Linked DNA regions of Homo sapiens: all the other regions are reported to be linked to region 1. The links are microRNA targets in miRTarBase. Many come from high-throughput screens and were not tested one by one. Region 1 holds a microRNA gene; each other region holds the end of a gene's coding sequence.

Region 1 (7,119 bases):
GCTGGTTAGCAGCTTGTGTACTATTTCTAGACAGAAATGCTACCTTAGTCGTATTGAGATTCTTTTCTTCCTTCCATCCAGTCATTTTGTTTTTAGAGTTTGATGATATGGAGGGTCTATGCTGGGTTCTTTGGAGATGTGACAGTAGCCCCTTCAGCTGCACACCCCTGTAATCCCCCACGGGCGGGGGGAAGCCGGTTGGGGCAGTGGCCGTCCAGCAGAGAAGCAGCGGGCCCCCAGGTGAACCCAGTTTACCTGAGGACAAAGCTGGCGGCCGCTCGCAGCACGTCCCACTTTGACCCACTCAAGTGGCAGCCTGTGTTCTGGGCTGTGGGTGCTCAGTTCACGCGTGTGCTTCCACGAAGTGCAGCTGTTGGGATTTTACCAGGCTGAGGCTCTGCCTTCCGTGGTGTCCAGCTCGACTGTCCTGTCCCGCTCTGAGACGACGCTGGTGTCCCCGAGGCTTTCTTTGCCTGCTGGGGTGATTTTGGATGCAAACCTTCCGTGTTAACGCTCTTTCAGACGTGCTGTTGAAAGAGTCCAAGTGGACGAAGATGTTCTTTGGAGAAGGCCAGGCCTCCCTGTCCTTCAGCCACCTGCACAAGGACGACGAGGGCCTGTACACCCTGCGCATCGTGTCTCGGGGCGGCGTCAGCGACCACAGCGCCTTCCTGTTTGTCAGAGGTGCGGGCAGCAGGGTTCTCAGGGTGCAGACCTTGTGTGTGCCCGGGGAGGGGAGGCAGCCCTGGGAGGAGGGAGGCGCTGGGAAAAGGAGTCCAGAGGGTGTGAGACCACTTTGCTCCTTGGAGACCCCATGCGGCCCCGATTTTCCCTCAGTGCATGGGCACGCCAGGTGCTTCCTGCCGATGAGCAGACGGAAGAATCGGGACACAATCCGGAATAGACCAGAATCATCATTTTTTTGTCTCTTGAATCGTTCATATAGTCATTAGCATTTGAAAAACGATTCCCAAGAGTGAGTGCCCCAGATTTACTCATTCTCAGGGAACGTAGCCCGAGGATGAAGAGGGGCACAGTGTTGGAGTCCCAGGGAAGAGCTTCCTTACTCTCCTGCCAGCGACTCATTCCCTCTGGACTTTGGCTTAAGAGAGGCAGATGTGATGATGATGACAGCCAGTGCTGTGACCTCCACCACCCACTTCAGTGAAACTCGTGCTTAAGACACTTGTGGCCATGACAGCTGTCATCACCAGACGCTTTATGTCAGGCAGTGTGCTGGGGTCCTACACGGATTTCGTCTTCACAGCAGACTCACTAGGGAAGCTTCACTCATTCCATTTATGAAAAGAAAGACAATATTTGTGATATACAGATATATATATTTATAAAATGCCTATTGTATACAGCCTATAGGTGTGCATGTATGTGCCTATACTTACATAAACATCCATGTATATATAAGCTGGAATTCTTACAGTGATAGCAAAAGGAAATACTGTTCTCAGTTTTCCAGATGAATCCATGGAGGCTCAGAGGCAGGAGAAATGTCTCTAGGGTAGAGAAGCTCAGATTTAAATTTTGCTGGAGCCTGGAACCTGAGTTCCTGTTATAACTTTGTAGTGTTTTTGGCATCATGTGACTGAGCAGAAGGGGCCCACCTACTCCCACTCCTCCTTTTTTTTTAGTTTTGTTTTTGAGATGGATTAACACTCTGTCGCCCAGGCTGGAGTGCAGTGGCGCGACCTCGGCTCACTGCAACCTCCGCCTCCTGGGTTCAAGCGATTCTCCTGCCTCAGCCTCCCCGGTAGCTGGGACTACAGGCATGTACCACCACGCCCGGCTAATTTTTATATTTTTAGTAGAGATGGGATTTCACCATGTTGGCCAGGCTGGTCTCGAACTCTTGATCATAAGTGATTGGCCCCCCAACTCGGCCTCCCAAGTGTTGGGATTACAGGTGTGAGCCACCGCGCCCGGCCCCACCTACGCTTTTATCAGTGTCTGTTTCACTCCCCTCCTGCTTCTGCCCTGGGCTGCACCTCAGCAGCCTCTGGGTTTAGGGGCAGCCTCCTTGCTGAGGCACAGCTGACCTACAAAGAAGGCGTCAGAGCGCTCCTGCGCCATGTAGCTGCTGCTGCTCTCCGGGTCCCCGGGCTCCCGGCTCCATCCCGATCAGCCGGGCATCCTTACCTGCTGCCCAAGTTCTCACCTTCCCACCTGCCTCCAGCTCCAGTGGGGTGCAGGACGCATCCATACATCTTCATGATTACTTTTTCCATTGCATCCATTAGATCAGAGCTTAAAGGAAGGACTGTATCATTAAAGAATATTTCATCTGAAAAGAAAGAGAAGAAATGTCAACCAAACGTATCTCACCCTCCTCACTTCCCACACGATAGCCTGAGCTTGCGAGTCTGTGAGGTTAGACACTCCCGCCAAGTTTCACTGCTGTTGTTAGGCGGGCGTTAAATGTCCCTTCCGTCTTCTGCATGTGCCTGCTGGTATGATGCTCCGCCCCATAAAAAGGCAATAAATGCAACACGGCTCAAATCGCCTTGCTCACTCAGCACCAGCAACAGGAGGAAAATAAGGCAAAGGTGGGGAGTTTAACCATTTTCATCGCTTTCTGAGGCTTTTGAATGTGAGAGGAAACCATTTGGCTCAATGTCAGGAAATCCTCAGCTTTTAATACCCTGAAGATATGTGAGCAGGAAACTGGATAGTGCTCACCCTGCTAAGCATGCGTCACAGGGCAGCCAGGGCTGCTGAATAAATACATAGTTTAGATAAGAAGGTTCACATTCAGTGTATTAACTTTCTATGTTGCTCTGTTGGTTTTCATGCAGCTGTAATTAAACCTAATTGCATTAGGGTCATCAATAGACTGAGAAACGAATGATGCAATATTGTCCCAAATATTTGCTCAAAGTTGGCGAAAAGAGTAAATCGCCCAATTTCCTAAGGATTTTGAAATAGAAGAGTATCTCAGGTGATATTTCTCAGGTGTTAGAAATGCCAGATTATTGTCACTGTTTCATCCGCACATTTTTGCCAACGTGCCGTTATGCACCATAGCAGGACCAAGAGAAGATGACCTGTAATTCAGGATCTAATGACGAAAAATTGTAGACTCAGTGTTTTATCAAGGATTCTATGTTTTGAAGCTTTTTAATTCATACATAATTTTATATTTCTTGTCACCAACCCGCCAGAGTAAGAAATATTCTAGTACTTTGAACATGAGAATTAAACAGTGGTCAAATCAAGGGGATAGAATTGGAGCTTGGAGGAGCTGTAAACAGGCTTTGCAGTGACCCCAGCCTTTAAATGACAGGCGTGTGCCTTTTCTCTCCCTGCCCCAAGATGCTGACCCGCTGGTCACAGGGGCCCCCGGTGCACCCATGGACTTGCAGTGCCACGACGCCAACCGGGACTACGTCATCGTGACCTGGAAGCCGCCCAACACCACCACTGAGAGCCCCGTCATGGGCTATTTTGTGGACCGGTGAGCGTCTTGCATTCTCCCGGGGATGGGAACGTTCCGCATGGAATCTTACCATGGACAATATATTGAGAAATTTTTCTCAATGCAGGTTGACGTTCCCATTTTTTGATTGGCTCTAGGTACATGGCTAATTGGTTGTATAAGTTCCTATTTAGGTAATTGGTAAATACGGCCAAGTAGGCTGAGCCCAGCATAACCACACTGGGTTTCTTTTTGTTGAAAGTGGAGGCTCGTTTGCCTGTTGCACACCCAGTAACCAATCCCACCAACGTCTTCAGGCTCACTCTGAGCCCCGCGCTGTGGTTCTGCTGAGGTCCGGGCTGTGCCCCGTACCGGACAGGGCCCTGGCTTTAGCAGAATTAAAGCTTGGAACTGTCCTTCCCTCCTGAGAGACAAAGTGCTGCGAAGAATGCCAGCTCATTTCTAACAAAGTTCTTTCCTTTTCTCTACTGAGGAATAAGGTGTTCTTCTTGTTTCCAAGTGAAAAATCTTGAGCTTCGAAATACTGGAGTTTGTGTTTGAGTTGATAACTTACATTTAGGTCATCGTTGGAGCCAGTGGAGTTTGAATTCTTTGACTTCCCGTACTGGGGACAGCGCTTGGAGCCTGGGAAGTGTACTGCACAGAGCCAGTGGGTTTACTGGATATGTAATTTATGCCCTAAATACAAATTCCAGTTCTTGGAGTAAATTATAGTTGAAGAAAATGAATTTAGAAATTAGACAGAGAGTAAAAGAGGATGGTTCTGGCTGGGCACGGTGGCTCACGCCTGTAATCCCAGCACTTTGGGAGGCCAACGCGGGCGGATTACAAGTTCAGGAGATCAAGAGCATGCTGGCCAGCATGGTGAAACCCTGTCTCTACTAAAAATACAAAAATTAGCTGGGTGTGCTGGCATGTGCTTATAATCCCAGCTTCTTGGGAGGCTGAGGCAGGAGCATCTCTTGAACCAGGGAGGCGGTGGTTGCAGTGAGCCAAGATTGCGCCACTGGACTCCAGCCTGGCAACACAGTGAGACTCCACCATCAAAAAAAACAAAACAAAACAAAAAACAAAAAAACAAAACAAAAAAACCACAAAGGATGGTTCCTGGTAGAAATGCAAAATTTTATATGTATATTAAACAGAAAAATAAGGTGATTATCTTAGGAAAAAATGAGGGAATTGGCTTTTGTTTGTTTGTTTGTTTATGCTGATTAAATTCTCTTTTCTCTTCCAACAAAACTACTTGTTTGGCTGAGACCTGTGCCATCAAACTAATATTTTGATATGCTAGAGACAGTTCTGCAGGGAGTGCTGTTCCGGGCTTACCTTGAATTAAGCAACTACAGCAAGAAAAACAAACCCTCAAAACGATCTTCTTTTCTCCTGGGACAGCTGATAAGTTTTCCCGCCATGTTGACAAAAACCATTTCCTGCACTGTCTCAGCTAACAATCCACGCTCCTCCCCTCATTACAAAAAGCGCAAACATGAAATTCAAAGCAACGGAACACTTTGGGAATGAGGGTGCATTTGGAAGTGGGGGGTGCAGCTCCTCCTCTGCCCTTCCTTTGGGCTTACGACTTGCCAGCTGTTGCCTGAAGTTGCAGGTTTTCCCATCAGACTTTTGGTTTTGACCTGTTGTTCTCTTCGGCTAAAACAGCCCATGACATGTGGATCAGACAGCTTTCATTAAAAGTGCTGGATACTTAGGAGGAGAGCTGGTTCTTTCCCAGATGAAGGCACCACTCTGGGGTTGAAGTGCTCCCTCCCAACACTGATTTTCTGAACTAGCTCTTTTCTCCTGGGAATTTCATGTGAAGGTTTTTTTCTTACATTTTTCAACCTGTGAAAAACAGAGGTTAATCTTTCCTATATTTCCAGGTTTCTGGTCAGGAATTAATATTTTCAAAAGACTTCTAAATTCCACATGAGAGGCATTCTAGAAAGAAATGTCCTAACATTATTCTAGGAGACTGTAAGCCAGCTTTCCCAGGGACCTGGGCCCTTGGTCTCACAGAGTGGGACGGGAGCTGGAGGCAGAGGGGGCTGAGCCTGTTTCCCCAGCCTGGGCCTCAGACGGGCCAAGCCGCAGCTTAGGGGTGCCGTGACTATGTCACGTAAGTCGGAACAAGAACTGTTCAGGATGCGTCTAAAATAATTTTTTGAGGAGATTTTTGCCTAAATGTGTTTGATGACAGAAATTGATCTTCAGCTATAAATTATTAAGATTCATGGGCATATATTACATATATAATAGATATTACATATAATATATATATTGCATTTTCTAAATAGCTCTGTCTTCTAATGTTTATCTATACAAGTCAATATCTTAGCAGCAAAGATTTTACTGGCGTGAGATATTGTCCTGTTATAATCAGTGTGTGCATATATGCATATACCTATGTATATTTAGTAGGTTGCCACATTTGCTATTCTCTGTTGTTTTTCTTTTTTTAACTTGAAGATGTGAAGTAGGAACGAATAATTGGGTGCAGTGCAATGATGCACCGGTGAAAATCTGCAAATACCCGGTCACAGGGCTTTTTGAAGGAAGGTCTTACATATTCCGAGTGAGGGCAGTGAACAGTGCGGGCATCAGCCGACCCTCCAGGGTCTCTGATGCGGTGGCTGCACTTGACCCCTTGGACCTCAGAAGGTTACAAGGTAAGCTGCTCACGCCTAAGTATCCACTGTGCCCAGGAAGCTTTGGCTGTTTTGTGTGTGATTTGTTGTCTCTTTCCCTCCCAACTCGATGTGAGCCCTGAGAATGCCCTGTGTGCAGAGCATAGCACAGGCTGTTACAACGTTCTCTGACATCTCCACCAACATCACTACAGGAATGAAAACGGGCTGACGTACACTCTAAAATGAATGTGCCTCTCCTCCAGAAAGCTCTTTGCTGGCATCCAGTTAAATTGGCTCAGAATTAGACCTTTTTTTTATTCCATTGGTGATATAATTTCAACACATAATGACACTTAGAAGGCCATCCTATTCTGAGTTTTAATTTTGCATGACACAGATTCCTTAATGGGACTGGGCCCTTCGTTATGGTTGTAAGCGAGCCACTATATTTTCCTTACGCACATGGTCCTTTGCATCCACCACCAAGAGCTGAGAAGTGCTAACTGTTACCAGGACACTTCCAGAATCAGCTCTGATGCCCCCAGAGGACTCACAGGTTGTAGTCCTAATGCAGAGGAGATGCAGAGCTGGCACAGAATGAGGGAAAACGGGCTTTTGGGGAAAACTTCGCATGTCAAATCGAGTGTCAACCTTTCTCTCCGCAGCCGTTCATTTGGAGGGAGAGAAGGAGATTGCCATTTATCAGGATGACCTTGAAGGTAAGTAGCACCTCATCACCCCAGCTGCTCAGCCCCTGGGGATTTGGAGTTGTAATTAGAGATGGGAGAGATGGACAGAGAACGCCCCCTACTGGGCACGGCCTCTGCATGGAAAAATGAAAACCGCAGGTCAGGCCTGCAAGCCCAGTGTCCATAGAAGTTAAAAAAAAGAAAAAATCAAGCAAGACAGAGTGAGAGGGTGGGAGAAAGGGTGAAGGATTGGTGACTCTTAGACTCACCTTTCATTTGGGGTTTACAAAGGCGTTCTTTCAGGGACTTGTAGAGAAGAAACCAAACTAAAGCTCAGACTTGGTTCCTGGGT
Region 2 (7,119 bases), not on the chromosome of region 1:
GTTCTTTTCCACTACTTTCTTTCACGTTCATTGTTTTGTTTTCTGCATATCTGGGCTCCTCCAGTGCCTGCTGACAAGAACGAAGGCCCGGGCGATTATTCTCAATAGATTGGCTTTCTTCTGCTGTTGCTGCTGTTGTGTGTACATAGATTTTGTCCCCCCGTGGCCTACCTCTGACTGGTGTGCACATCGCGGGTAGGGCCTACTGCCTGGTAGACCTTGCTGTGGAGCATTGGGCAGGGGTTTTCTTCAATACCTGTGAGATCTGTGCTCCTAGACGCCATCACCTGCACCTGCAGCCCCGGCTCTCCCCACCCAGTCATGTCTCCTTAGGGCGAAGCTCCTGGCCTCTGTTGTACAGAAAGCCCTGGCCTGTCCTGCATGTGGGTGAGAGAAGCCAAGCCTGGGGATCCCAGAGGAATCGACAGGCTTATTCTTCTCCATACCTCCAACAGGCTCTCACTGTATGTTTGTTGAAATTGCCCCATCCTCAGTCCACTAAGAAATAAAAGAGCATCCATGTTCATGGATTGAGATTCCCACAGATCGTTGCAAATGTAATGTCATCATTTGCTTGATCCCCTGATAGTACTGATAATTACACAAGGTCATTTCCAGACAGTGGCTACTGTTTCCATTGTGGAGGGGTTTTCAAAGTCTTCCGTACATAAGAACAATTGTAAAGCAGTTTCTGAAATAGAAATCTATTGCAAATAACTTCTTTTAGCTGGACTTTAACCCTTGGGCATTTCATTCTTTTATTTAAACAGATGATGCTGGAGGGTCTTGAAATCTTTACAGTAAAACCTGCAACTTGAAAACTAGCCTTCTGTAACCACAGTGCCCAAACGAAGAGGAATGTATGGAGAACTCCACGTGGATCTCTGATTGCGAAACCGTCACATACACCAAGAGAGCCACATGGGCATGTGGCCCTCAAGGCTGGGTGAGAGGGCTCCCCTGTGTGTTGAACTATGCAGGAGGGTGACGCGGACACATTTCAGGTGGACTTTGCAAGGACTGATGGATAGCTACCTCAGGGACCAGAATCCGTGGGAAGGGATGGACCTGGTGTTCCCGTTCCCATCTGACAGGCTCTCTTTTGTCAAGGTGGTATTTTTCGTAATAAAAGGGGAAGAGTAAAGACTGTCCAAGCAACAGTAGCTGCCAAAGAGAAAATACGAAATAGACACTTTTTTTTTTTGAGTCAGAGTCTCACTCTGTCACCCAGGACAGAGTGCAGTGGTACGATCTCAAGCTCACTGCAGCCACCACCGCCTGGGCTCAAGTGATTCTCCTGCCTCAGCCTCCCGAGTAGCTGGGATTACAGGCGTCCACCACCATGCCCAGCTAATTTTTTTATTTTTAGTAGAGTTGGAGTTTCACCATGTTGGCCAGGATGGTCTCGAACTCTTGACCTCAGGTGATCCACCCGCCTTGGCCTCCCAAAGTGCTAGGATTACAGGCATGAGCCACTGCGCCCAGCAAAATAAACACATTTTATAATTTGTATGTGGAAACATGTTACTATAGAAAGCATTTTAAAGGTACGTTTTAAAGGTCCACTGTTAAATAGTAAAGAATGAATCCGCTAGCGAAAATGTTTTTAGGGAGAACAGCTGGATCAAAAGGGCTTCTTTGGAATTAGGTTGTTTTAGTAACTTCTGTTCCAAAGAAACACAGGTCTGATATTGCTAAGAACTGAAATCGGAGGAGCCAGAGGCCCTTTTCAGTCCAGGCCAACATTGTGCACGGCCACTGTGGGACTGACAACCGGGATAGCTCAAGTTCGAGAGACCAGGTTTCAAACATTATAAGTTCCAGGCTTTGCAAGTCTTTATTCTCTGGGGTAATATCCAGTCTTTCTGTTATTGTCTCTTAAAATTCTCTTCCATGGCCCACATTAAGGGAGTTTGCAGAGAGTGAGGGAGGCAAAACTTGAAAAGGGCCTGCAACACTTTAAACCTTCTCAGGTTCACCCACATGAAACGGCTGTGCTGAGTGTGCTGCCGGTGCCCGGGGAGCTTCTCTGACTGTGACCCGGCAGAGGCTTCTGTGGCGGTGCATGAGCGGCCCTACAGTGGAGGGTTCTCTTTGGAAACAAACAGCCCTGCTTGGTTTCAGTTTGAGGCCACTTATCTTCAATGTGACATTTCTTGCCAAGCCCTGTGACACTCCCCATTGATGACTCCCATAGGTACAGATAAAGTTAAGAACAGGAAACAGAAGGGTAGGATGCATAGGGAGGGAGAGAAGCCCTGAAAACTTTTTTTTTCTTTTTGAAGCATGGAAAACAAATCTTTTATGCCACTCCAGCCATAAATAAAATTTTAACTTCAACCCTGTGTGCTCAGTGTTTCTTTAGTTATGCCAAGGCTTGCTAGAATGTTATTTAGTGAGAATTTTTAGCTTGAGTTGCCACCCAACTGTGAAATCAACTAAATGATTACTTGAATGTATTTAAATGTTTTAAAAAGCAAACATTATAAATTTTTCTTTAATGTCATTTAGTAAGTGCAGTCAGGGAATATCTGAATCTAAGAGCTGGCCAGACACAGGGTATAGCAGAATTACAAGCATAGAGGATGCTATGCAGTAGGATGTAAAGCTCATTACAGCCCATTTTTAAGAAAAGCTTTGTGTGCTCTGCTGGAGGACACAGCCATGTTGCTGCACCACATGGATGTATCTAGTCAGTTCTGTTGTATGCTCGTTGTAGAATGTAAAGTTTATTCCAATCCGATTGATAGATTAAAGGCAATTCCAGCATAGTGCACTTGCTTGTGTATAGTTTAGTCCGTGAGAAACATCACATCAGGAGGTAACAAAGTTGGCCCTGCTGTTTACTGCCTCAAGCTAGAGTAGCTATTACATTTTAAAATGGTTATATTTTAAGACAGGGCAGGTAGCTCAAACCTGTAATCCCAGCACTTTGGGAGGCTGAGGGGGGCGGATCACTTGAGGCCAGGAGTTTGAGACCAGCCTGGCCAACATGGTGAAACCCTGTCTCTACTAAAAATACAAAAATTAGCCTGGCGTGGTGGCGTGTGCCTGTAATCCCAGCTACTTGGGAGACTGAGGCAGGAGAATCACTTGAACCAAGGAGGCAGAGGTTGCAGTGAACCAAGATTGCACCACTGCACTCCAGCCTGGGCGACAGAGGGAATTCCATCTAAAAAAAAATAAAAATAAAATGGTTACATTTTAAATAGTTATACAAGTACCTGCTAAGAACCTCCTTACTATCTCAACAAAGCCTGAATATGTGCTGTGGCCCTTAAATTAGGTTACTGGGCATGCTCTGTTATATCAGAAATGACTGAACTTGGTGGGATCACTGACAGTCTATAAGTCAAAGTTATGAAAGAGAACAGCCAAGCGCGGTGGCTCACGCCTGTAATCCCAGCACTTTGAGAGGCTGAGACGGGTGGATCACTTAAGGCCAGGAGTTCGAGACCAGCCTGGCCAATGTAGTGAAACCCTGTCTCTACTAAAAATACAAAAATCAGCGGGGCACGGTGGCAGATGCCTATAGTCCCAGATACCTGGGAGGCTGAGGCAGGAGAATCGCTTGAACCCAGGAGGTGGAGGTTGCAGTGAGCAGAGATCGCGCCACCGCACTGCAGCCTGGGCAACAGAACGAGACTACGTGTCAAAAAAAGAAAAAGGAGGACAAATAGAGTGGCTTCTGCTGTCTGCAGTTCATAGAGGTCAGCTATCTCACCGTACCGGAAGTCCCTTCCAGGAAGGAACCAAATCTTTTTGAGATTTAATTTCTTCCTCACAGAGTGCATTCTGTTATTACATGAAACAGTGTTGTTAAAATGGATACATTTACTCAGGAGGCTACTCCTTGGTTAGCACTTGGGCCCAAAGCAGTCTGAAGTGGAAGCCCACCTCAGAATTTTCTTGTCCCTTTTTTTTTTTTTTTTTTTTTTTTTGTTGAGACAGTCTTTGTCACCCAGGCTGGAGCACAGTGGCGCAATTTCAGCTCACTGCAACCTCCACCTCCTGGGTTCAAGCGATTCTCCTGCCTCAGCCTCCTGAGTAGTTGGGATTACAGGTGCACCCCATCACACCTGGCTAATTTTTATATTTTTAGTAGAGACAGGGTTTCACCACATTGGCCAGGCTGGTCTCGAACTCCTGAGCTCAAGTGATCCACCCGCCTCAGCCTCCCGAAGTGCTGGGATTACCAGCGTGTGAGCTGCCGCTCCAGGCCTGTCTTGTTCCATTTTGAAGTGGAAATGAAGTGGTGAAAGTGCAGCTTTCTGCACATAATAACGTTTGTAAGTGGAGAAGTCAGTTGTCACTTGAGAAACTCTGTATTCTTCAATATTTCCGTAACAGAGATTCTATTTATAAAAATTCAGATTGCATTGAAACAGACATAATTCAATTTCACCATTAAAATATTTTTGGCTTCTAAAATTCTACATTGGAGACATTTGAAATTAGAACATTTTTTATTGATATTTTCAATACTAACATAGTTTCTCTGAAACAATTTCCCAAAAGCCAGGTTCAACAGTTTATTAACAATCTTATAACTAGTATGTTTAAAAACCAAGAGAAGTTCCCTTCAAGATTACTTGGGTGCAAGGCAAGATCAGAGTGAAGATGAAGCTGAATTCAAAATTTTTCCAACCAAACTAGCTTATTTCAAAATAGAAGTTAGAATTATAGTACAAAATTGTACCTTTTGTTTGTTTTTTAAAAACTCATTTGACACCAGCTCTCACTGAAAACTTTCCCTACTAGAATGAGGTCTGAACACTCAACTAAAGTGAGCCACAGCCTCTTTGGCTAGAACGACTAAGGTTTCTCTTAAAGGGTGCACCAGGCTGGTCCTGCTTGCTCCAGAAGTCTCCTGTGGAGGAGCTGTGTGAGTATTAGAGTGGGAACTGAACAGTGATCAGGTGACTGCTGCAGGACTGCCCCTAGCGGGACTCTCCGTGTCTCTTGCTGCTTTCTTGGCCTTCAGTGTCTGGATACTGAGAAAGATCTAGGGTCAAAACTCGGCTGAACATGCAGTCATCGTACTAAAATGGAGAGAAGACAGTTAAAAGTTCCCCTAATTAGGGAAAAAGTATTATTAAAGTAAGAGCCATTAGTGAGTCTAGAATTGCATTCAAAAGGAATCTTCTTCAACCTAGTAAGATATCTGCATTTATATTGGTTGTGGGTTTTTTTGGTATTATCTGGTATGAGAATTTCCATTACTCATGCATTATATTTCCAGGTGGTCCCCTAACATTCTGTAGGCACAGGAAGGTAAATTTTTATCTTTGCTTAAAGGAAAATTCAGGAAGTAAATCCTAACTGTCCAAAACCAAATGACCTGAACTAGTGGCTCTACTTCATGAGTTCAGGTTAGTATTTTCAATGGCTTGAGAAAGGTGTGTTCACATTTTAGAAGTTACTATACAACTTGGAACTTCTAATGTATTTCTTTGTTTTGTCCTCTGATACTTTTGGAGGATAAATGGTTCCTTGCTCTACCACAGTGCATTTGTTTTTGCTTAAAACACTGAAACACTGCAGAAATAAGAAGTATAATGTTAACAGTTCGTGTAAATTAACATGGACTTATTTCACGAAACAAAACTATCCTACTTACTGTTCTGCAATTTTCCATTTGCTTTTTTCACTTAAAATATATCTTCAATCTCTATGTATTGTCTAGGAAAGCACCAGTAGTTATTTTTAATCTTATTTGATTAAAAAGTCATTTCAGCATTAGACTCCATTTGGAAGTTTTAATTAGGAAAGCCCAGTGGCTGTCAGGGTACTAAGGGAAGTTGGCATTGGGTACACTCCTCTCGCCTCTGATTTGTCTTTACCTCAGGATAGATGCCGATCAGCGCGTCGGCTCTGGAATAGAACTCTTCTTTTAGGGAGATGACTATCATCTGAAACTGGTCTTGAGTTTGCTCTTTGATGTAACTTGACACCTGGAAGAAATAAAAACACACATTTCACTAGGAAGGAAAGGCCTTGTCTGGGCTCTGGAGACAGTAATTCTGCATGTCTCTGAGTCTGGTCAGTTTAGGTGACAAGGACTTATCCACCTTTCCAATAATTCAATAAATCCTCAACAACTGCAGAAATGGAAATAGATTCTAAAATGAGATAAACTTCATTAAACCTATGATCTAAAACTTTAAGAATATTTTAAAGAATAAAGCTCCAACTTAAGATACTGTGATGTGAATAGGTAACCAGCCTTTATAACAAGAAAAAAACTACCACTCAGAGTATTTTTTGAGGGTGAAAAAGGGCTGGTATTTAAACGTATAACCTCCAGGCTGGGCGCAGTGGCTCACACCTGTAACCCCAGCACTTTGGGAGGCTGAGGCAGGCGGATCACCAGAGGTCAGGAGTTCAAAACCAGCCTGGCCAACATGGTGAACCCCGTCTCTACTAAAATTACAAAAAAATTAGGCAGGCATGGTGGCAGGTGCCTATAATCCCAGCTACTCGGGAGGCTGAGGCAGGAAAATCGCTTGAACCCGGGAGGTAGAGGTTGCAGTGAGCCGAGATTGTGCCACTGCACTCCAGGCTGGGCGACAGAGTGAAAGACTCCATCTAACAACAAGAAGAGCAAAAATCCAAAATAATTTCCACCTTCCTATTTTGCCAACTCAGCCTGAAAGGAAAAACAGGGCAATTATATATGTATTCGTAATCCATAATCAAGTCATTTGGTTAGAGGTGAACTCTGGTTCCCTAAGGAAGCTCAATTCCAAGGAAATGAGAAGTGCAAAATGGACTCAATAGAGATGAGTCTTGGTGAACAAACCACTCAGAACTTGGACGGTGATAAACCCCAAGAAGAGAAAAACTACCAACAGTCTAACAAAGGTAATACCAACTCCTGGATTTCTCTGAGGGCCTAGAATGGGTCTTCTCCATGTGCACCAAAGATCCTGTGGACACAAGCTCTGGAAGTAGGAATGGTAGCTTCCATTGAGGAATGAGTGGCCATGTTTTACGTGAGAAAGGAAAGAAACTGCTCTAAGAGGCTGAATTCATAGAAGGAACTTCCAGCATTAGAGGCAATGGTAGTAGCCACTATGACAGGGCTGAAAAAAGGTCTTGGGCCCATAATAGGAAAAG
Region 3 (7,119 bases), not on the chromosome of region 1:
AAAAAAAAAAAAAGTTAAAGTACATGTTCAGATCTGAGACAGGACCAGGGCTGTGCTGTTAGGATTGGTAAAGAGGGAGTCGAGGCCAGATGCAGTAGCTCATGCCTGTAACCCCAGCACTTTGGGAGGCTGAGACAGGAGGATCACTTGAGCCCAGGAATTCGAGACCAGCCTGGGCAGCATAGTGAGACCCCCATCTCTAAAAAATTGGGAAGGAGTAGAAATCTTTCAAAGGGTTAAGAGGAGTTAGAGACTCTTTTGGCATGGCGGGGGTGAAGAGGGAGAGCTCCTCTGAGGCATCGGCCTGGGCTGGGAGCTGAGGGCAGCAGGGCGGGCTGGGGAACTTGAGGTGCCTTTGGGACATCTAAGGATGTGTGACCAGAGACAGCAGTGTGGGCCTGGCACTCAGGAGCCTGAGCAGGCTGGAGACACCAGTTAAGTCACATTCACAGCATGGACCCCCTTGGCTCAGCTGTTTCCTGAGTCTGGTCAAAGTTATTTAAGCCAGAGTCATCTCGTGGTTGTGTCATTTCCCCCTTTCCCTGCGCATGTAGCTTTCCCCAGGCTGGAGTGTGGTGGGGAAAGCCACAGGGAGTGTCACTATACACATAAGTTAGTCTCCTGGAATTTCTTCAGCTGTGGTCATTGCTAAAAAAAGAAGTATGACGCTGGACAACAGGAGTCCAATGGGACTTTATTTAACATGTTTGCTCAAGTTATCAGCTCTTTGCAAGTGACTGACAGACACCACCTCCTTTGTAACCTCAAAGCAGGTTCACAGACTATCTCCTGGTTCTTAGGGATTTCTTCTGTCGAAAAGAGTTCTCAAAAATAACAGCAACCTGAGATACCATCTGTTAAATCCTTAAGCAATTTCGCATGCCTTATGAGACCCTGCTGATTAAAAACATCTAGTTTTGTTTTCTTTTTTTTGAGACGAAGTCTCGCTCTGTCATCCAGCCTGGAGTGCAATGGCGCGATTTTGGCTCACTGCAACCTCCGCCTCTCTGGTTCGGGTGATTCTCCTGCCTCAGCCTCCCAAGTAACTGTGACTACAGGTGCGTGCCACCATGCCCGGCTAATTTTTTGTATTTTTAGTAGAGACGGCGTTTCACTGTGTTAGCCAGGATGGTCTCGATCTCCTGACCTCGTGATCTGCCCACCTTGGCCTCCCAAAGTGCTGAGATTACAGGCATGAGCCACGAAGCCCGGCTAAATTTTGTGTTTTTTGAGATAGAGTCTCTCTCTGTCACCTAGTCTGGAGTGCAGTGGGGCAATCTCAGCTCACTTCAACCTCCACCACCTGGGTTCAAGAGATTCTCCTGCCTCAGCCTCCTTAGTAGTTGGGATTACAGGCATGTGCCACCACGCCTGGCTAATTTTTGTGTTTTTAGTAGAGATGGGGTTTCACCATATTGGCCAGGCTGGTCTCGAACTCCTGACTTCAGGTGATCTGCCCACCTTGGCATCCCAAAGTGCTAGGATTACAGATGAGAGCCACCATGCCTAGCCAACATCTAGATTTTTAGAATCTCTCTGGCCCCTTCCTGCCCCATCTTTGTCTTTCTGCCCTCCCCTCCAATAGTGGCATCTCCTCCTGGGGCCACTGTGCAGGAGTGAGTTATTTGCTCACTAATCACACCATACTAAACCCTAAACTCACTCCAGGACTGCTCTCCCAGCCCAGTGGGTAGCCTTTGCCATGGATTGGTGGAAGGAACTTGGGCCTGGAACTCCCTGGTCCCACCTGAGTCTGGCCACTCTCTCTGGCTGTAAAGGTGGAGTTTAGAGGACGGGCACTCCAGGCTCTTTAGGAGACTCCTCTAGATAGAACCAGAGAGGGAGAATGGGAGCCCATTTAACTAAAGCCAAAAAAAATAGATTTTTTTCATTTTACTCCCTTGCTGTTTTGTTGTTGTTGTTTTGAGTTTAGGAGCAGAGGTTTAATAGGCAAAGGGAAAAGGAGAACAGCTCTCTCTCAGACAGAGGGGCACCCAAATGGGAATTCCCGCTAACTGGTAATTTGATGAGAAATAGCAAACAACAGAGGACCACTCTGACCTGTCCTCCTGCCTACTTCCTGCACTGTTTATAGGAGCCCACCTCCTCCTCCTCATGCGTCCTGTTTGCTTCCTTCCAGCCACGGGCTGCCCAGTGGTGTTCTGACACCTGCTGTACCATCGCTGCAATGTCCAGCCTGGAATCCCTGGCGCTGCGGTGGTGCTGGATGGGCTCAGAGATGGTCCGATCAGAAGGGATCACAGAGGAAAGCTGGGGGTGGTGGCTCACGCCTGTTAATCTCAGCACTTTGGGAGGCTGAGGCGGGCGGATCACTTGAGGTCAGGAGTTCCAGACCAGGCTGGCCAACATGGCAAAACCCCGTCTCTACTAAAAGTACAAAAAAATTAGCCGGGCATGGTGGCATGCACCTGTAGTCCCAGGCAGGAGGATCACTTGAACCCAGGAAGCAGAAGTTGCAGTGAGCCGAGATCGTGCCACCGCACCCCAGCCTGGGTGACAGAGCAACACACCATCTCAAAAGAAAAAAAAAGGGATCACAGAGGAAACTGAGGCACAGGAAGGGCAGTGCCTGCCTCAAGGCACCTGGGAACCGGCCTCAGGTGGACCTTGTGTTTTCCATAGGAGGAGCAGAGACTGCTAGAAACTAGGAGTTCGAGTCTCTTCCACCATACACCTTTCTCAGCCCGAAAGGGCAGCACATTCCCACGATCAGGAGCCCCCAGAACACCGATTCTTAAACTTTAGCATGTGTAGAAATCCCTGGGAGAGCTTTTCACAACACAGATTCCTGCGCCCCATCCTCAGAGATTCTGATTTGGTAGGTCTGGGGTGGGGCCTGAGATGCTGCATATCTTTTTAAAAATTATTATCATTATTATTATTTGAGACAGAGTCTTGCTCCATCACCCACGCTGGAGTACAGTGGCGCAATCAAAACTCACTGCAGCCTCAACCTCCCAGGTTCAAACAGTCCTCCCACCTCAGTCTCCCAAGCAGCTCTGTCTACAGGCACAGTGCCACCACACCTGGCTAATGTTTAAATTTTTGGTAGATACAAGGTCTCACTATGTTGCCCAGGCTGGTCTTGAACTCCTAGCCTCAAGTGGTCCTCCTGCCTCGGCCTCCTAAAGTGCTGTAATTACAGGTGTGAACCACTGTGTCTGGCCAGATGCTGCATTTCTAATAAGCTTTGCTCCATGGACCACACTTGGATTACCACTGACTTAGAAACTCACAGTACCTTACCCACTGAGTCAGGATGAAGCTTGCTAAACTGTTGCAACAAGGGCCTAAACTGTTGCAACAAGGACAGAGCCAGGTGCCTCACGCCTGTAATCCCAACGCTTTGGGAGGCCAAGGCGGGTGGATCACATAAGACCAGGAGTTCGAGGCCAGCCTGGCCAACATGGTGAAACCCTATCTCTACTAAAAATACAAAAACTAGTTGCAGATGGCCTCCAGCCATCTGCAGCACATGATCTGGTGAAGGAGAGCTCTGATGAGCACGTGACGTAGTATGGTCCCGGCAGGTCTAGCCCAGGGTGGTGTGGGGGGAGTTGAACTTAGGTGACTCGCAGAAGACCCCCATGTGCCCAGGTGGAGCAGGGTAGCCATGTGCCCAGGTGGAGCAGGGTAGCTAAGTAACTGGACACTGCGGCTGGAAGCTCAGAGGCATCTAAGCAAATTGTATGATTTACCCGCGGTGTGACCTAGGACAAGTTACATAATGTCTCTGAGCCGAGGCTGCCTCTCTATCAACTGTGATCATAACACTGTGATTGTTTCTACAGGGAGCCCCCAGTAAATGGCAGGAATTCAGGTCACCATGAGGTGGACTCACGTTGATCTCAGACCAGATAGGGACATTAGTGGGTACAAATGGCCCTTGATGCTCAATTTTGTTGTCAGTTAAAAGAACCCTCTCAGCCAGTTTTTAATTCCCACTGAGCAAGTGAGATGGGTAAAGAAAACAACAGTGGCTCACACCTGTAACTCCAGCTCTTTGGGAGGCCAAGGTGGGAGGGCTATCTGTGCTCAGGAGTTCAAGACGGCCTGGGCAACATAGTGAGACCTCCTCTCTACAAAAAAATTAAAAATTAGCCAGGTGCGGTGGCACACACCTGTAGTCCCAGCTACTCAGAAGACTAGGGTGGGAAGATCACTTGAGTCCAGGAGTTCAAGGCCACAGTGAGCTATAATGGCACCACTGCACTCCAGCCTGGGCAACAGAGTGAGACTCTGTATCTAATAAAAGAAAAAATAGAGAAAAAGAAAAAGAAAACAAGCACCATTGGCTGGGAGTGGGCAAAGCAGACAGACCCCCAGCTCCCAGCATCCTCCACTGCAGGTGACCTCGAGAAGGGTCAGAGCAGGAAAATGGGGGCTGGGAGGTTCAACAGAAAGCTGTGTGGCAAGACCAGGGAAGCAGGTGTGGCAGCTGGCGTGAAGAGACAGGTCAGGAGTGCAGTCGCATCATTTAACGAGCATTTATTGCACACGTCTGTTCAAGCACCAGGCTCAGGCTGGAAACCATCCAAAGCGCAATCCCTGACCTCAGGCAGCTCACAGTCCAGTGGGGAAGCCGAGAAGCAAATTAATGACTCTGAAGAAGCGCAGGCAAGTGCTATGATCAAGGCATGTGTGTGGGTAGGGTGTCTGGGAACCCCAAAGTCAGCCTCAGGTGGGGAGGTAAGTCAAGGAAGGGTGAGGGGACTGGGCTCAGCCTGGGTCTCGGAGGAGAGCGGGGCCAGCCCCGGGGATGGTAGAGTCAACCTGCCAGGCACTGTGCACTGCTGGCCAGGCCCGGCCAATGAGAGCACAACTTGTTCAGGGTCCAGGAAGCAACCCCAGGAGAACAAAGCCTCGTGGGGAGGGAGGAACCTGGAGGGTGGAAGGAGTTTGGGCTTTTCCTGAAGGTGATGAGAGCCACTGAAGGATTCTGGGGGAGGAGACATAGGGTTATCCTGGGTCATGGGGGAGAGAGCTTTGAAAGGCAGGGAGGTGGGAGGCCGCAGGGACTCTCAGAAGTGGAGTCTCAGAGCTCCTTAAGAGGTGAAGGCAGCCGGGCGCGGTGGCTCACGCCTGTAATCCCAGCACTTTGAGAGGCCGACGCGGGCGGATCACAAAGTCAGGAGATCAAGACCATCCTGGCTGACATGGTGAAACCCTGTCTCTACTAAAAATACAAAAATTTAGCTGGGTGTGGTGGCGGGCGCCTATAGTCCCAGCTACTTGGGAGGCTGAGGCAGGAGAGTTGCTTGAACCCGGAAGGTGGAAAGGCGGAGGTTGCAGTGAGCCGAGATCACGCCACTGCATTCCAGCCTGGGTGACAGAGAAAGACTCCATCTCAAAAAAAAAAAAAAAAAAAAAAAGAGGTGAAGGCACAGGACAGGAGCTGGGATGTCACCAGCACCACTTGCCAGCTCACTTGTGCCTCATGCTCCCTGTTTCACAGATGTGGGAGGCAAAGGAGTCAAGGCCAGCTACACAGGGAGGCTGCACAGGCCCCCTGGCTTCCGGCTCCCACAGGTGTCTGCCCAGCCCAGATCTGCGCGGGTGGGAGGCACCTTGGTTAGGAAGGGCTGAGCCTCTTGCACTGATTTGCAAGCTTTCAACCTGGCCTCCAATCTCAAACTGGCCTCCAGGCCGTGGGCCTGATGGGGAGCTGCTGGCATTGCCGCAGGGCTCATCCCCACCAGCGGAGGAGATATTCGTAGCTGAGGAAGGTGACAGCATTGACGGGAAAGGCGCGGGCACTGTTGATGGTGACCCCCCGGAAGAAGACTCCCAGTCCTTCCTGCCGGATGCTGCTCACCATGCAGTCCAGCATCCCCTGGTACACTCTGCGTCTCAGTCCATCCATCTGCATCCGGGACTTGATCATGTCTAAGGGCGTGGCTGCCACCCAGGAAGCAATGCCTGCAAAGCCCCCTGCCACCAGCACCGTGGCTGAGCCTGGGGCAGAGAGAGCCCAGAGCAGGGGTCAGACCCAGAACAGAGCATCCTCCCCAGACCCTAGTTTCCTTCCCCAGTCCCCGCTGGACCCTGCCTGCTACCCACACCTCTGTCCCCCATCCTCTCACGCCACTTTACTTACTGGGATTCTGGCCTTCTGGTGTGTACTGGCGACAGAGCCCTTCATAGGTGATGAAGTAGATCCCCACCGTGGGGGTGTCCCTCAGCGTCAGGGCCCAGGCTCCTCGGAACAGCCCCCGGGGCCCCTCCTCCCGGAAGATGGAGGCTGCACAGTGCACGGGCCCCTGGTACCGGGGTGGGGGGCTCCCTGGCTGGGCCCTTGGCTCTGTCTGGTTTTGTAGCCGGACTTTGATGAGGTCAAAAGGAGCCAGACAGTAGGCCTGTTGGTGATGAAACATGAGGGCCCCGGGTGGGGCTTTGGGCTGGGAACTGGCCCCTTATATTCACAAGAGGAAGGAGGCAGGCAGGGGGCCACATCTTCCAGTCCCTCAGGAACCCTGCCGGCACCCAGCCTCTCACGTGCATGTGTGGCTGGGATGGCCAGGATGTCTGCATGCGACCGGGACAGGCCACCTCCCTTGGCATCAGGCCCAAGAGTGAGAGGCACTGCCCCTCATGCAACAGTGACCAACTTGCCTGGCCTACAGCAGGCACTCAGAACAAGCCTGGATTCTTTTTGCAGGAGCAGGTTGGTTTCTGGCCTCCCTAAAGCCGGCAGTGAGCATACCTGTACGGTGGGCAGGGCCAAGTGAAGGATTCAGCCTGTGACTGTGAAATAGCAAAGAAACCACCCTTTCCCAGGGTGAAGGAGGTCCCCTCGTGAGTGCTGTTCTCCTGCGCCCACCTCTCAGAGGCCCGGAGGGGCACAAGGCCAGCCCCTCCTGCCTCCAGAGAGGCAAGACTCCTTCCCATTAGCATCCCACCAAAGAGGCTTCTGAGTGTGGGAAGGTGGGTAATGGGGGGACTTGGCAGGTGCTAGGGCTCTTAGAATCGGCAGAAGCAGATGCTACACAGATTTGGGATGGAATTGGGGCTGGAGTCCTGGTGAGGGTCAGTGCTGGGGGGATGTAGAGGGCGATGGGGGCAATTAAGATTTGGGTCAGAGATGCCAGTAGGTCAAGA
Region 4 (7,119 bases), not on the chromosome of region 1:
TTTAATTTGCTAATGTGAGTTGTGAATCTCTGAGAGAAGGCTAACGGCATGCTTGCAACTTACTTGTCCACAGACAAGCCTTTCTGCCCCAGAAGAGAAGACCATTCTAGGGTGCTAATGAGCAAAGAGGGTGAGGGTGGAATATCGGAGAGCAGCAGGGAGTGCAGGGGAACAGATAGGCCAGTTCAGGGAGCAGAGAAGGAGAAGCCCCCCCACCTCACCTGCCCTCCCCAGCAGTCTCTGTTCTGGTCTCTCACAGGGTGACAGTGGTGGGCCCCTGATGTACCAATCTGACCAGTGGCATGTGGTGGGCATCGTTAGTTGGGGCTATGGCTGCGGGGGCCCGAGCACCCCAGGAGTATACACCAAGGTCTCAGCCTATCTCAACTGGATCTACAATGTCTGGAAGGTAAGGTACCTTTGCCCTACCCACTGTGCCTTCCCTCCAGTCCTCTACCTGGGGGGTGCCAATCCATCCTCAGGTTTGATTTAAATGGTTCTGACAACTCTTTACATCCCAAATAACTTTCCCTCCAAGCAAGGGACAGCCTGAGATTGCACTATTAAGGCTGAAATTCCTTAGGTCAGAGATTTCTGATAAATGCAAATACCTTAGGGAATAGAACACACCAAGCCTTTCTTTCTCTTTTCTGACAGAATGAGACTATCAGATCCTTTCTAGAGAGAAGATTCTGATAAGGAAGAGAGTGGAAAGGCTCATGAGACCTCCTGGCCCTCTGCAGGGTAGGGAGAGAAGCAAAGTGTTTCAGAAAAGGAAGACTCACGTTACACATGTCACCACTTTGTCCAGTTTCAGATAATCTGACTTTCTCTTCATCGGTCTCTCTTATTCTAGGCTGAGCTGTAATGCTGCTGCCCCTTTGCAGTGCTGGGAGCCGCTTCCTTCCTGCCCTGCCCACCTGGGGATCCCCCAAAGTCAGACACAGAGCAAGAGTCCCCTTGGGTACACCCCTCTGCCCACAGCCTCAGCATTTCTTGGAGCAGCAAAGGGCCTCAATTCCTATAAGAGACCCTCGCAGCCCAGAGGCGCCCAGAGGAAGTCAGCAGCCCTAGCTCGGCCACACTTGGTGCTCCCAGCATCCCAGGGAGAGACACAGCCCACTGAACAAGGTCTCAGGGGTATTGCTAAGCCAAGAAGGAACTTTCCCACACTACTGAATGGAAGCAGGCTGTCTTGTAAAAGCCCAGATCACTGTGGGCTGGAGAGGAGAAGGAAAGGGTCTGCGCCAGCCCTGTCCGTCTTCACCCATCCCCAAGCCTACTAGAGCAAGAAACCAGTTGTAATATAAAATGCACTGCCCTACTGTTGGTATGACTACCGTTACCTACTGTTGTCATTGTTATTACAGCTATGGCCACTATTATTAAAGAGCTGTGTAACATCTCTGGCATAGGCTAGCTGGAATGCTTGATAAGAACTGAGCTGGGATGATTGAACTTTCATTCTTTGGCTTGGGGAGAAAAGAAGTCCTGGGGAAGCAATTGAGTCTCAAAGTAGAGGCAGGGGAAAAAAGAGTTAGGGAGACCAGATCTGCTGAGTGGCAGCAAGAGTGAGCTGCAGATTACAGAAACCAGGGTGAGCAAGTTTGAGTCCCACACAGGGCCTTCTCCCTTTGCCTCTTTCCCTCCCTCCCTGCCTGTGATAATCAGCCAGGAGCCAGGGATAACCTATGACTTGGGAAAGAGATGAGTTAGGCAGTCAAGGGTGACATTCAATCAGGGATCCACAAGTGGCTGGAAAGAAATGCTGGTCCTGTGTCCTAACTTTTTCCGCCTGGAGAGCCCTCAGTGTGGCTTCTTACATTTAAAAAACAAAAAGGATCAGCTGCCAGGTGTGAGGCAGTCCCCAAGCTGAGTTGTGAGGATGTAAGCATGAATAAGTCCCTGCACTCAAAATGGTCAAAGAATTAAACCCCATGGACTTTTTTGGCATCTGTATGAAAGCTTGGGTTTTCTGAGGACTGTCTTGCTATAGTTAAGTCAGATCCTAGATGAAATATACTTGTTCATACTGTACTAGGTTCTTAGGAAACAACAGAATTCCTCAAATGCCAAAAACAAAGAAAATAGAAACCCAGAAAACAAAACAAAATAAAACAAAACCATCAGAACTGTGAGTGGAAACTAAGGTGATGATCTGGGAGCAATACACTAAAATCTTGGGTCGAGACCTATATGAAGGCTGGCAGTGGAGCTAAACCTGGACACACTGAAGACAAGGGAGCTGAACCAGGGCTCCTACATGAAGCAGGGATAACTGATGGCAGTAAATGTGGTCTCAAATTGCAGATGGTCTGGAGGAAAATTTCCCAAATTTAGAGCCTCAGGATTCCCAAAGATCCTCCAAATATGAGCTCACAATCAAAGATCAGAGACGTTGAAAAATAAAAAACACCTTAAGTGGGCAGCATAAAAAACAGCTAATTTAGAACCCCAAAGGCTTCAGATGTCAGAATATTAGAGACTTATGATAATAAGCAATATTTGCAGAGTATTTGTATGTGCCAGACACTATTGTAAGTGCTTCATCATGTACTGATTCATTTAATACTCACAGAAATCTGTGAGATGGGTATTATTCTTATCCTCACTCTATGGATTAAAAAAACTAAGGCACAAAGTGGTTAAGCTCCTTGCCTGAGATTATAGACTGTAAGTTGAACGTGAGCACTTGGAATACAGAGTTCATGCTGTAAACTACCACACTATAGGGCCTCCAATATGATAATTTATAAAATATTTGAATAAAAAATGAATACTAGTTCCACATTTTAAAATCATGTTTAACTGTGGTCAAATGCACATAACACAAGTTGCCATCTTCACCATTTTTAGGTGTATAGTTCAGTGGTGTTATGTACATTCACACTATTGTGCAGTCATCACCACCATCCATCTCCAGAACAGAAACTCAGTACCCATCAAACAACTCTCCATTTCCCCCTCCTCCCAATCTCTGGCAACCACCATTGTGCTTTCAGTCTCTGTGAACTGGATTACTCTGGGTACCTCATTTAAGTGAAGTCATGCAGTATTGGTCTTTTTGTACTTGTTTTATTTCACTTCACATTGTGTCTTCAAGTTTCACCCATGTTGTAGCATGTGTCAGAATTTCTTCCCTTTTTAGACTAAATAATATTCTATTGTTTATACGAACATTCAGGTTACTTCTATCTTTTGGCTATTGTGAATTATGCTGCTGTGAACATGGGTGTACAAGTATCTCTTTGAGGCCCTGCTTTCAATTCTCTTGGGTATATTCCCAGAAGTGGAATTGCTGGATCATATGGTAATTCTATTTTGAATTTTTTGAGGAACTGATATATTGCTTTCCATAGAGACTGCACCATTTTACATTCCCATCAACAGTTTGCAGGAGTTACTATTTCTCCATATCCCCCCTAACACTTGCTATTTTCTGTTAAAAATGGATATCTTAATAATCAAGCAAAAATAACAGGCAGATTTGAAAAAGAACTGAATACAGCTTTTAGAAATAAAAACTATAATTATAAAAATAAAAAACTAAGTGGATGGGGTAAATAACAATTAAAACACCAATTAAGAGAGAACAAATGAACTGGAAGATAAATTGAAGAAGTGACTAGGCTTAACAGCAGAGAGAGATAAGGAGATTAAAAATATGAAAACAAGGCCAGGAGCAATGAAGCCTAGAATGGTAAATTCTAACATATCCAGAATCCCAGAAAGAGAGAATCAAGACAATGAGAGAGAGACAGTACCAAAGAGATAAGAGCTGAGAATGTTCCAGAATTGATAAAAGGTGTGAATCCACAGAACATACACCACCATAGTGTACACGCATACAACCAAGGTGGAAAAATTAGAATAAATCCACACCTATGTACATTATAATGAAACTGCAGAACACCAAAGACAAAAAGAAACTCCTTATAGCAGCAGAGAGAAAACCCAGACCACCCACAGTACCACAAATCTACCACAATTAGACTGACAACAGGCTTTCCCACAGCAATAAAGGAGCTAGAAGTCAGTGGAAGTATATCTCCAGCATGCCAAAAGATAACAATCAATCAGGGATTGTGAACCCTACAAAACTATCTTTCAAGAATAAAGGCATTTTCAAGAAAACAAAAACAGACTTTACCATCAACAAACCTTCTCTAAAAGAATATATAAAGCATTTACTTTAGGAAGAAGGAAAATGATCCTAAAAGGAAGAACCAAGAAGCAAGTAGCAATAGTGAGGCAATTGTGAAAATGTAGGTAAGTCTAAACACACTCTGTCTACTTCTTCTTCTTCTTCTTCTTCTTCTTCTTCTTATTTTGAGACTGAGTCTTGCCCTGTCACCCAGACTGGAGTGCAGTGGCAGGATCTTGGCTCACTGCTATCTCCACCTCCCAGGTTCAAGTGATTCTTCTGCCTCAGCCTCCCGAGTAGCTGGGATTACATGCACATGCCACCATATCCGGCTAATTTTTGAATTTTTAGTAGAGATGGGGTTTCACTGTGTTGGCCAGGCCGGTCTCAAACTCCCGACCTCAAGTGATCCCCCCGCCTCGGCCTCCCAAAGTGCTGGGATTACAGGCGTGTCTACATATTATTAAAATAACAATAATATTTATTTTGTGGGTTAATTTTTTTTGAAACAGATATTGAATTTATTGGTTGGCTATGAGTAGAAAAATACATCAGTAAAGAAAAAAGACCCTGTATATAAATATAATACTAGCTAGTTAAAATTTGACCAAGAAGTTTCCATTGTGGGTTAATTTTTAAAGGCCTAACTGAAATATGGAGTAACCACAGCATGCAGCATGTAAATTAAAGGGGATAGCTGGAGTTAAAATATTCTGAAGTTCTTAAATTGTCCAAAAGGAGGGTTAAATATTAATGTTATGTTACATAAAATGTTTGTACTATGTTCTAGATGGTTAGTTAAAAGAGTAATCACCAAAAGAATGGAAATAAAAGTGTGTCACTTCCAAAACAATTGAAAGTAGCAATTGATGAATAAAAAACAAATACATCAAGCAAGTACAAAAGAGAAAGGAGGGAAAGGAAGAGCACTAAGGAGGGAAAAGCACAGAAAAATGGAACAAATAGAATATACAAAGTAGGATAGTGAAAAAAGTACTAATAATCGCAATAAATATTAAACTCACCAAATAATATACAGAGATAGGCAAATTGGATAAAAATGTAAGATCAAGCTATATGTTATTTGTAACAGACATACACAAAACACCAGGTTACAGAACCATTAAAACTGAAAAAGTGGAGAAAGGTACAGACAGCAAGCATTTAATCAAATTTAAGCTGGGGTAGCTATATAATATTTTTCTAAATAAGGATTTAGGACAAAAAGACAAAACTGACTTTAGGATAAAGAGGGTCACTACATAATCACGAAAGTTTCAATTCACCAGTAAGCTATAATAAGTGAAAACTTGCAAACAAAGAGAAGAAAATAGAAAATTAAAAAAATCATCCTTTGTCACCACTGGAGTTGGCAATCACACCAGGCTCTTACTCTGAAATAATATTTAAAGAGGAAAAGTTAGCACTATTCTGCTTTGCCATAGAAATCTACTTCCAGGTAACAGGGTGGCTCCAGGTGGTGAGGGAAAGTATAGCTAATCAATATAGATGAATGACAGGAAGCCATCATTGGCAATTTCTAATGAAATCATTGATTCAGGCAAGGATCATCAATGGATGCTATTGTCTGAATGCTTGTGTCCCCCAAAATTTGTATGTTAAATCCTAACCCCCAAGGTGATGGTAGTAAGAGGTGGGACTTTGGGGGCTGATTAGGTCAGGAGAGCTCCCTGTTCATGAATGGGATTAGTGCCCCTTACAAAAGAGGCTTGAAGGAGCCTCTTTGCCCCTTCTGCCATGTGAGGACATAGCAACAAGATACTATCTATGGAAGCAGAGAATGAGCCCTCACCAGACACCGAATCTGCTGGCAACCTTGATCTTGGACCTCCCAGTCTCCAGAACTGTGAGCAATAAATTTCTGTTGTTTATAAATTACCCAGTCTAAGGTATTTAGAGCAGCATGAATGGACTAAGACCACAGAGAACTGCACAGTCACATAATACCCTCATATCATCCCACGGATCCCTTGCTAATCTCAATAAGAAACCTAACTTCAAAATGAAGGGATCAGGCTATCATCACCTTACCCACTAACAGTGGAATCAGCAGATACTATGTTCCTCCCAACGTGAATATGAAGTACACCTTCATGTTGCATCATCTAAAGGCATCTTCCCAAAAATGTTTAACATAAATCTTTTAGATCTAATTTCCAGTGTACAGGAAATACAAGAATTAGAGGAACAAAACATAAGAATTAGAGGAACAAATTAAATGACACCACTAAAAGACAAATCCAGAAGGTGGGACATTCCACCACAGGACATTCCCATCTCTTCAACAAATCAATGTCATGTAATTACTGTTATGTCTTTTTTTTTGAGACGGAGTCTTGCACTGTCACCCAGGCTGGAGTGCAGTGCAGTGGCACCATCTCGGCTCACTGCGAGCTCCGTCTCCTGGGTTCATGCCATTCTCTTGCCTTAGCCTCCCAAGTAGCTGGGACTACAGGCGCCCGCCACTACGCCTGGCTAATTTTTTGTGTGTTTTTAGTAGAGACGGGGTTTCACCTTGTTAGCCAGGATGGTCTTGATCTCCTGACCTCGTGATCCGCCCGCCTCAGCCTCCCAAAGTGCTGGGATTACAGGGGTGAGCCACCGTGCCCGGCCAATTACTGTTATGTCTTAAGAGGCATAACAATCAAATGTAAGGCATGGGCTTTGACCAGATCCTGAGTTGAACAAGTTAGCAACAAAAGGCATTTGGGCAAAGGGGTAATTGGGAAATGTGAATATGATCTCAGTATTAGATGATAATAAGGAATTGTTAATTTCATTATGTGTGACAATGATATAGTTAAGTAAGAAAGATATTCTTAACTTTTAGAGATGCATACAGAAGTATTTGGGGTAAAATGATGCAAAGTTGTAATTAAAAATACTTCAGGAGGGGCCAGGCATGGTGGCTCATGCCTGTAATCCCAGCACTTTGGGAGGCCGAGTGGGGCAGA

Evidence for each region. The annotated mature microRNA hsa-miR-7160-5p reads UGCUGAGGUCCGGGCUGUGCC and lies in region 1 at 3,773-3,793, shown strand. An mRNA with a match to its seed (bases 2 to 7 or 8) in the 3' UTR can be bound and repressed. Matches are read on the target gene's strand: a 7mer-m8 pairs with bases 2 to 8, a 7mer-A1 pairs with bases 2 to 7 and ends in A, and an 8mer does both.
Region 2: miRTarBase lists FAM118A as a target of hsa-miR-7160-5p. Seed matches in the 3' UTR shown: 7mer-m8 at 1,301-1,307.
Region 3: the mRNA of SLC25A45 is a reported target of hsa-miR-7160-5p. Seed matches in the 3' UTR shown: 7mer-m8 at 5,261-5,267.
Region 4: the mRNA of TMPRSS4 is a reported target of hsa-miR-7160-5p. Seed matches in the 3' UTR shown: 8mer at 985-992 and 7mer-m8 at 4,427-4,433.

Annotation. Positions count from the first base shown.
Region 1 is chr8:2,072,817-2,079,935 of GRCh38, forward strand. MIR7160 (microRNA 7160) reads left to right here and starts at 3,773; the gene lies at 3,773-3,824. It overlaps MYOM2 (myomesin 2), which reads left to right. Exons shown (of 37, transcript NM_003970.4): 10 at 523-684; 11 at 3,325-3,466; 12 at 5,918-6,117; 13 at 6,744-6,797.
Region 2 is chr22:45,339,616-45,346,734 of GRCh38, forward strand. It overlaps FAM118A (family with sequence similarity 118 member A), which reads left to right. Exons shown (of 9, transcript NM_017911.4): 9 at 771-2,340. The coding sequence ends at 790. It overlaps SMC1B (structural maintenance of chromosomes 1B), which reads right to left. Exons shown (of 25, transcript NM_148674.5): 24 at 5,844-5,954; 25 at 4,448-5,042. The coding sequence ends at 4,941. Among named protein-coding and RNA genes, the nearest start is that of FAM118A, 33 kb to the left of the region's middle.
Region 3 is chr11:65,370,700-65,377,818 of GRCh38, forward strand. SLC25A45 (solute carrier family 25 member 45) reads right to left here. Exons shown (of 7, transcript NM_182556.4): 6 at 6,119-6,377; 7 at 4,493-5,976. The coding sequence ends at 5,708. It also overlaps a transcript of FRMD8 not described here. Among named protein-coding and RNA genes, the nearest start is that of SLC25A45, 8.4 kb to the right of the region's middle. RefSeq lists an enhancer at 5,926-6,426.
Region 4 is chr11:118,117,046-118,124,164 of GRCh38, forward strand. It overlaps TMPRSS4 (transmembrane serine protease 4), which reads left to right. Exons shown (of 13, transcript NM_019894.4): 12 at 260-409; 13 at 857-4,845. The coding sequence ends at 868. Among named protein-coding and RNA genes, the nearest start is that of SCN4B, 32 kb to the right of the region's middle.